Linked DNA regions of Homo sapiens. The protein of the gene in region 1 interacts with the protein of each later gene in a pairwise test. Each region holds a gene or a part of one and is shown in the gene's direction. Other genes may lie near its edges. The genes, in order: KCNAB3 and GMDS.

Region 1 (3,912 bases):
GAGCAGGGAAAACCTAGGATGACCTACCCTGCCTCTTCCCCATCTAGCAAACACTTCTGCTCATCTTCAAGACTTGACCCGAGTGTCCGCTCCTTCAAGAACTTTGCCCAACTCCCCAGAGTTGGTCACCCCCTCCCCCACCATGAGCTCCTAAAGCACTGTGGACTGCCTTCTGACACGCAATTCGTGGTTTATGCAGCTATATTAGCTGCTCAAGTCAGAGGCCTCCTTCCATGGAACTTGTCTTGCTCTTCCCCAAGTACCCACACAGAGCCTGGCACAGAGCAGGTGCTGCTTCTGGGAAGAATCAACATGTCTGCGAAAGTGCACACAGTCTAAGTGGTTAAAGGAAAAAAAAAGGGCAATAGGAAAGATTAAACAACGGTAAAACATTTCAGTAACAGTCCACCATGACAACTTAAGACTTGTCATAAGTGAGCTCATAATTTTATGCTAAATTATGTAGCCAATTCTGTGGAAGCTGACCAGAAGGCTGGACCATAGATTGTGGCACTCAGAGAACACATTATGGATGAGGCAGAATTTGAGCTGAGCTTTGGAGGACGGGTGGGATTTTGCAGAGGCTCAAAGAAGGAGGAGGGCAACCCAGATAGTTGAAGCCAGACAAGGCAGTGTCCTTCCTGGCTCCACCATAGTTGGCCCCTCTCCCCTCATCCTATTCTATCTTTTTGGCACCCACAGCAGGGCTTGGTACACAGCTAATGCACAACAGATATTTGTTGAATATGTGATGAAAACTATACAACTACACCCCTAGTTCCTTCCAACAGACCTCTTATTTTGTCCAGGATGGGGCTGTGAGCTGAAATGGACTCCTGGTTTATATCCTACTTTGCAAGAGAGGAAAAGGTGGGGAGGAGAGGAAGGAATTGATTGGCCTAGAAGGGATCAGTGGCTCTGCCTTATGTTTCTTTTAGGGCTGAAAGAACCCTAGGGAACATCCTCAAGAGCAAAGGTTGGAGGTGAGACTGTTTTGGGGGGTTGCTGGGGATGTGATCACCCAAAAATCCTTTTCTTACTGGTTCTCCCATTTCTATTCTTCCAGGAGATCAAGCTATGTCATCACTACCAAGATTTTTTGGGGAGGACAGTAAGTGGCTGCCCCACTGCGATTGTGGAGAAGGCCTACAAAGAATGTGTGAAGGTGTATGGGGTGGGGGTGGGGACAGCTATCCTGCACCAGGTCCGCACCATGCCTGTGAAGACTCGTGCAATCCCATTTCCTTATGGCTCCAAGCCAGCCCCGGTCCCCTATCTTTGTCACATCTCATCTTTGACTTACCTTTTCCTACAGGGCAGAAACCGAGCGAGGTTTAAGCCGAAAGCACATCATTGAGGGTGAGAGTTAGGGGCTGGAAACCCAAAGTGAGGGGATATGGAAGCCAGAGGAGTAGGGAACATTCTCTGAACTTCTGGAGGCTTTGAATAGGGATTTAGGTGGCCATGGCAAGGGGGCAAGGTCTGAATTCTTTTTTTTTTTTTTTTTTTTTTGAGACGGAGTTTCACTCTTGTTGTCCAGGCTGGAGTGTAATGGCACGATCTCGGCTCACTGCAACCTCCTCCTCCCGGGTTCAAGGGATTCTCCTACCTCAGCGTCTCGAGTAACTGGGATTACAGGCACACGCCACCACGCCTGGCTAATTTTTTGTATTTTTAGTAGAAATGGGGTTTCACCACGTTAGCCAGGCTGGTCTCAAACTCCTGACCTCAGGTGATCCGCCCACCTCGGCCTCCCAAAGTGCTGGGATTACAGGCATGAGCCACCACGCCTGGTGGCCTGCATTCTTAGTACACTGAAGCTGAGGTGCTTATTTTCTTCTCCCTACCCCACCTCCAGGCTTGCGAGGATCCCTGGAACGCCTCCAGCTGGGATACGTGGACATTGTCTTTGCCAATCGCTCAGACCCCAACTGTCCTATGGAGGGTAAAAGCAGCACCCCCAAACCTTACAGTCCTTCAAAACTGAGCACTTCCTTGCTGGGTGCGGTGGCTCATTCCTGTAATCCCAGGACGTTGGGAGGCCAAGGCAGGAGGATCACTTGGGGCCTGGAGTTCGAGAACAGTCTGGGCAACATAGCAAGACCCTGTCTCTACAAAAAATGTTTTAAAATTAGCTGGCTGTGGTGGTGTGTGCCTTGTACTCCCAGCTGTTCAGGAGGCTGAGGCAGGAGGATCATTCAAGCCCAGGAGTTTGAGGCCACAGTGAGCTATGATTGCACCACTGAACTACATCCTGAGTGACAGAGTGAGACCCTGTCTCAAAAAATCTAAAATACAAAAATTGAGCACTTCCTCAAACCCTCAGCAGGAAGCCAGCCCCTGCTCAGAAGGCCTCCAAAACTCCACAGTGGAGGCTGAGACTCCAGGATGTGGACAGGAAGAGAGGCAAAGAGTAGATATTAACTTTCATGACTCCATAGAGTTGCCTGGGGCCTTGGTGGGGCAGGTGGAGGTCTGCAAATCTGGAGTCTTAGATTCCAGGGCTCTGACAGTAAGGCTTTCCCTCTCCTGTGTACCTAGAGATTGTGCGAGCCATGACCTATGTCATCAACCAGGGCCTGGCCCTATACTGGGGGACATCCCGATGGGGGGCTGCAGAAATCATGGTGAGTGTGTGACCCCACCTTGCCCCTGTCCCACAACTGGTTCCCACTTTTCACGTGGTTACTCCAAAGCCCACTGCACTGGGGGAGAAGGCAGAGAAGAAAACGGAAGTAGTGCTCTGACCACTTTCTTTTCCCCAACCCCAACCCAGGAGGCCTACTCCATGGCCAGACAGTTCAATCTGATTCCTCCAGTGTGTGAACAAGCGGAGCACCATCTGTTTCAGAGGGAGAAGGTGGAGATGCAGCTGCCAGAGCTCTACCACAAGATTGGTTTGCAGCCCTCATCCCTGCCTTTACCTTAGCCTCATCCATGGCTAGGTCCTTTTCCTGACACCCAGTGTTCTTCCCTTAGGAGTTGGATCAGTCACTTGGTACCCTCTAGCCTGTGGTCTCATTACTAGCAAGTATGATGGGCGAGTCCCAGATACTTGCAGGGCCTCCATCAAGGTGAGATCTGGGGGCTCTCGATGGCAGGACTGGGCTATATGGGCTGCTTTGGGGGGAGTTACGGGGGGCTGCTTTGTGAGTGTGGTGGTGGTGGTGGTGATGGCGGGGTCTTCTGTTGATTCTTCTTGGCCTCCAGGGCTACCAGTGGCTCAAGGACAAAGTGCAGAGTGAAGATGGCAAGAAGCAACAAGCCAAAGTCATGGACCTTCTTCCTGTCGCTCACCAGCTGGGCTGCACCGTGGCCCAGCTTGCTATTGGTGAGACATTGCACCCTGCAGGGGCCCTGTCTCCTCCTGACATGCTCCCAAGCCCATCCTAAAACTGGTTTGTCCCTAGGGAGGACGCTTGTCTTCAGAGACACTTCTGAAATCTATGTGGTCACTGTTCCCCATCAGTCCTCTTTTTTTCCTCCTCTGGCCCCAGCGTGGTGTCTCCGCAGTGAGGGTGTCAGCTCTGTCTTGCTGGGGGTGTCGAGTGCGGAGCAGTTGATAGAACACCTGGGCGCGCTACAGGTGAGCCGGGGACTCAGAGGCAGAGCCTATCTGTCCCCCTCCCCAGGAGTCAAAGCCACGCTATCCAACCCAGGATGGCTCTATCAGGTCACCCACTACAAAGTCCTCACTTTGCAGGTGAGAGGTCCCAGGGCCGGAAAGCGAGGCACCGGCACAGCTGCGGCTCTTGCCTTGCCACTTGACCCCACTGTGGTGCTTCCCCGGCTACTGGAACCCCATGCCCTTTCTCAGTGACCCAGCATGGGCTGCCGTCGCCACCGTCCCACTCTCCTCCAGGTGCTGAGCCAGCTGACCCCGCAGACAGTGATGGAAATAGACGGGCTCCT
Region 2 (3,912 bases), on another chromosome or scaffold:
TGTGGTGAGCCTTATGAGACAGAGAGAAATAAATAGTCTTACTCTAAGAAGAGATTTCAGATTCAAATGCCACTGCTCTGGCACTTGGGGCTATCATGGCATTTGTGCCAAGATGGGCTCTTAAATGGGTTGTCCCAAATTCCCGCTTGAGAATAGTGCGGACAGCCAGGGTGTCCTGTCTGCTGTGTATCTCTAGTACGTATTGTCAGGCTTCTTATTCTAGCCTTCCCCTCCCATCGGTTCTTGACACACTCCTTTTCCAAAGTGGGAACCTTATTAAATAGGCTTTAAAGAAGCTCAGGCTCTGGCTTTGCATTGCTGTCTCCAGGCCCTCTGCCAGCCACTCTTAAAAGCTCACCCCCATTGGCTAATGATGCTGTTCTTTACTGCACTCTTGGAGATGTTCTTGCTGTTTTTTGAATACTGTTGCCTTGTACCTCTTTGGAGTAATTATTTGTGGCTGAATGGCCTCACAATTCTTATTCCTTTTAAGGTGAGTCTCAGTGTTCTCAGCCTAATCCTGATAAATGCAGCCATTCCAGGAACTTCCTCTGTATTTACATGTATGCAGTCCCTGTTGATTGTATAAGTAATTTCATATCTTTTGTCTTGAGATTATGAACTACTTTAAGATAGAAATCTCATTTTCAGCCTGTTACCTCCCACATGCCTTCATCTAGTGGGGTTTCAAAACTGTTGACTTACTTTTTCCATTAGCAGAACACATCTTCACTGCATGTCTGCAGTGTCCAAGGCTTGTTTTGGTGCTGCTGCAGATATAAAGATATGAAAGTTGTCTTCATCTGTTTGTGTTGCTATAAAGGAATACCTGAGGCTGGGTAATTTATAAAGAAAAGAGGTTTATTTGGTTCATGGTTCTGAAGGCTGTACAAGAAGCATGGCACCAGCATCTGCTTCTGCTGAAAGCTTTAGGCTTCCACTCATGGAGCTAGTGTATGCAGAGATTACATGGTGAGAGAGGAAGCAAGAGGTGGGGTGGGGTGTGGGGTGCCAGGCTCTTTTTAACAACCGGCTCTAGCGGGAGCTAATAGAGTGAGGAGTCACTCATTACTGTGAGGATGGCACCAAGCATTCATGAGGGATCTGCTTCCATGACCAAAACACCTCCTATTAGTTCCCACCTCCAACCTTGGGGATTAAATTTCAGTGTGAGATTTGGAGGGGTCAAAGATCCAAACCATGGCATTCCATCCCTGACCCCCCAGATCTCATCCTTCTCACATGCAAAATACAATCATCTTTCTCATGCAAAATACAATTCCAATAGTCCCTAAAATTCTTAACTTGTTCCAGCACCAACTTAACGGTTCAAAGTCTGAGACTCAAAGCAAGTTCCTTCTAGCTATGAGCCTGTAAAACCAAAAACGAATAATTTTTTTCCAAGATACAATGGTTGTACGGTCATTGGGTAGACATTCTGTGACTGCAGCAGCCAGGATGTCGGAGCAGCATGTAGGACGTTCCAGGACTCCTTGAGGTGTGCCAGGCCAGCTGTGCCCCGGGCCTGTCTCCCCAAACCATGCTGTCCTCCTAGGTCTCTGGGCCTCTGATGGGAGAGACAGCCTCAAAGATGTCTGAGATGCCTTCAGGGTCTTTTCCCATTGTTCTGACTATTAGCACCTGGCTCCCTTTTATCCATGCCAACCTCTTTAGCAGGTGATTGCTCCCCAGCACCATTGGCTTTCTTTACTGAAAAATGCTGTTTTCTTTCACTATCACATGACCAGGTTGTAGATTTGAAAAATTTTTCTGATCTGTTTCCCTTTTCTCTACCAATTCTACAAGTAATGCACTTTGAACAGCAAATGCAACAGACTGAATTACCATCTTCCTTATGACATTGATAGTCTAGTGGTATGATGATGGTGATAGTTATAATTATGGTAGATTAAAATAATTAACAAGTACTGAGCATTTAGTTTGTGCCAGGTACCGTTCAAAGTGCATTACATTTTGTTCAAAGTATATTTGTTGAAGCAACAGAGAGCTTCTATGAGGTGGTTTTCTTTTTCTTTTCTTTTTTTTTTTTTTTTTTTGAGACAGTCTTATTCTGTTGTCCAGGCTGGAGTGCAGTGACGTGACCTCGGTTTACTGCAACCTCTACCTTCCAGGTTCAAATGATTCTCGTGCCTTAGCTGCCTGAGTAGCTGGGATTACAGGTGTTTGAATTACTGCTTAGCTCTTTCTGAACTGCACTGGCTTTGGGTAAGTCACTTATCTTTTCTGCCAGGTTGGAAGAATAATTCTTATCAAATAGGAAATAAATCTGCACATAGTAGTGGCCTTTGCCTCATTACTGGAATGGACCTTCCCTCCATAGTGTTAACAGAATAATAAAAGATTTCTTGACTTTTAGGAAAGGAAGTTGAATGTGGGAGGTATTACTATTTAGCCTTGCTTTGCATGGGGAATCTATTATCTAGAAGCAGAAAGTTCTGTAATATTTGGAATCAACCACAAGGCTATAAAGTACTGGGAGGCCAACAGATTTAATGTCCAGTGAGTCTTTCAAGACTGTGCAAAGCAGATCTGGGAGCTGGTCTTATCTTCTCATATAAGAGGATTGTAGGCAGTGACTTCCATTCTAAATCTTCCTTGCTGGGATTTGCAGTCCTGGGATAAAAGGTTTGGCATTATTGGGCTGGGCGTGGTGGCTCACACCTGTGGTCCCAGCACTTTGGGAGGCTGAGGCGGGCCTCCCAAATCTCTGGATCACGAGGTCAGGAGATCGATACCATCCTGGCTAACATAGTGAAACCCTGTCTCTACTAAAAATACAAAAAAATTAGCTGGGCATGGGGGCAGGTGCCTGTAGTCCCAGCTGCTTGGGAGGCTGAGGCAGGAGAGTGGGGTGAACCCGGGAGGCAGAGCTTGCAGTGAGCCGAGATCGTGCCACTGCACTCCAGCCTGGGCGACAGAGCAAGACTCCATTTCAAAAAAAAAAAAAAGGTCTGGCATTATTGGAAGTGAGAGAGATGTCTTGAGTACTGTCCTGCTTAATCAAAGACTGTTACATGTGATTAATTGAAAGAGCTCTGGACTGGGAATCAGAGGTTGGGTTTTGATACCAATTAATTGTATAGCCTTACATTTTTTGAGTGTTTTTCTTAACTTGTCAAGTGAAAGGGTTACCTGGTTATTCTTAGGGATCTAAGGGCTGCTCCTAGTCTACAGTAGTGTGATGTTTGGATTACATGCTGACTTATTATGTGTACAATAGAGAAATTATGCAATTATCTTTATATTTAAGCAGTGCAGTAATTTCAGTTTTAGACATAAAGCCAATTGGATTTTTTTTTTTTTTTTTTGAGACAGATCTTACTCTGTTGCCTAGGCTGGAGTGCAATGGTGGTATGATCTCACTCACTGCAACATCCGTGTCCTGGGTTCAAGTGATTCTTGTGCCTCAGCCTCCTGAGTAGCTGGGATTACAGGCGTGCGCTACCACGCCCAACTAATTTTTGTATTTTTAGTAGAGTTGGGGTTTTGCCATGTTGGCCAGGCTGGTCTTGAACTCTTGGCCTCAAGTCATCCGCCCACCTTGGCCTCCCAAAGTGCTGGGATTATAGGCGTGAGCCACCGTGCCCGGCCAGGATAGTTTTTTTTTTAAATGAAACCAATGAACTATTAATTTTACTGAATTTGAAATTAAGTTTGTAAACTAAGAAGAAATTCATATGAGTTGTATGTTGTCAGAATTTGTAAGGATAGAGTGAAAACTTGGAGCTGTCCATCTTTGTAGGACATATCAAATGAATGAAGTGACTTTTTGGTGAGGAACGATTTTTTTTTTAACTGGTACATAATAATTGTACATATTTATGGGGTATGTGTGATATTTTGGTACATGTTTGTAAAGTTCAAATCAGGGAAATTAGGATAGAGGAAGGA

The links.
Region 2: the proteins of KCNAB3 (region 1) and GMDS interact in binary tests that used the Homo sapiens proteins (3 or more experiments, as listed by UniProt).

The regions. Positions count from the first base shown.
Region 1 is NC_000017.11:7,923,130-7,927,041, reverse strand, and holds part of KCNAB3 (voltage-gated potassium channel subunit beta-3), read left to right. Parts: intron 1-938; coding exon 939-983; intron 984-1,066; coding exon 1,067-1,111; intron 1,112-1,315; coding exon 1,316-1,359; intron 1,360-1,858; coding exon 1,859-1,945; intron 1,946-2,541; coding exon 2,542-2,627; intron 2,628-2,776; coding exon 2,777-2,897; intron 2,898-2,979; coding exon 2,980-3,074; intron 3,075-3,210; coding exon 3,211-3,331; intron 3,332-3,410; coding exon of another isoform or gene 3,411-3,497; coding exon 3,498-3,586; intron 3,587-3,862; coding exon 3,863-3,912. UniProt on the Homo sapiens protein: Regulatory subunit of the voltage-gated potassium (Kv) channels composed of pore-forming and potassium-conducting alpha subunits and of regulatory beta subunit. The beta-3/KCNAB3 subunit may mediate closure of potassium channels.
Region 2 is NC_000006.12:2,238,747-2,242,658, reverse strand, and holds part of GMDS (GDP-mannose 4,6 dehydratase), read left to right. Parts: intron 1-3,912. UniProt on the Homo sapiens protein: Catalyzes the conversion of GDP-D-mannose to GDP-4-dehydro-6-deoxy-D-mannose.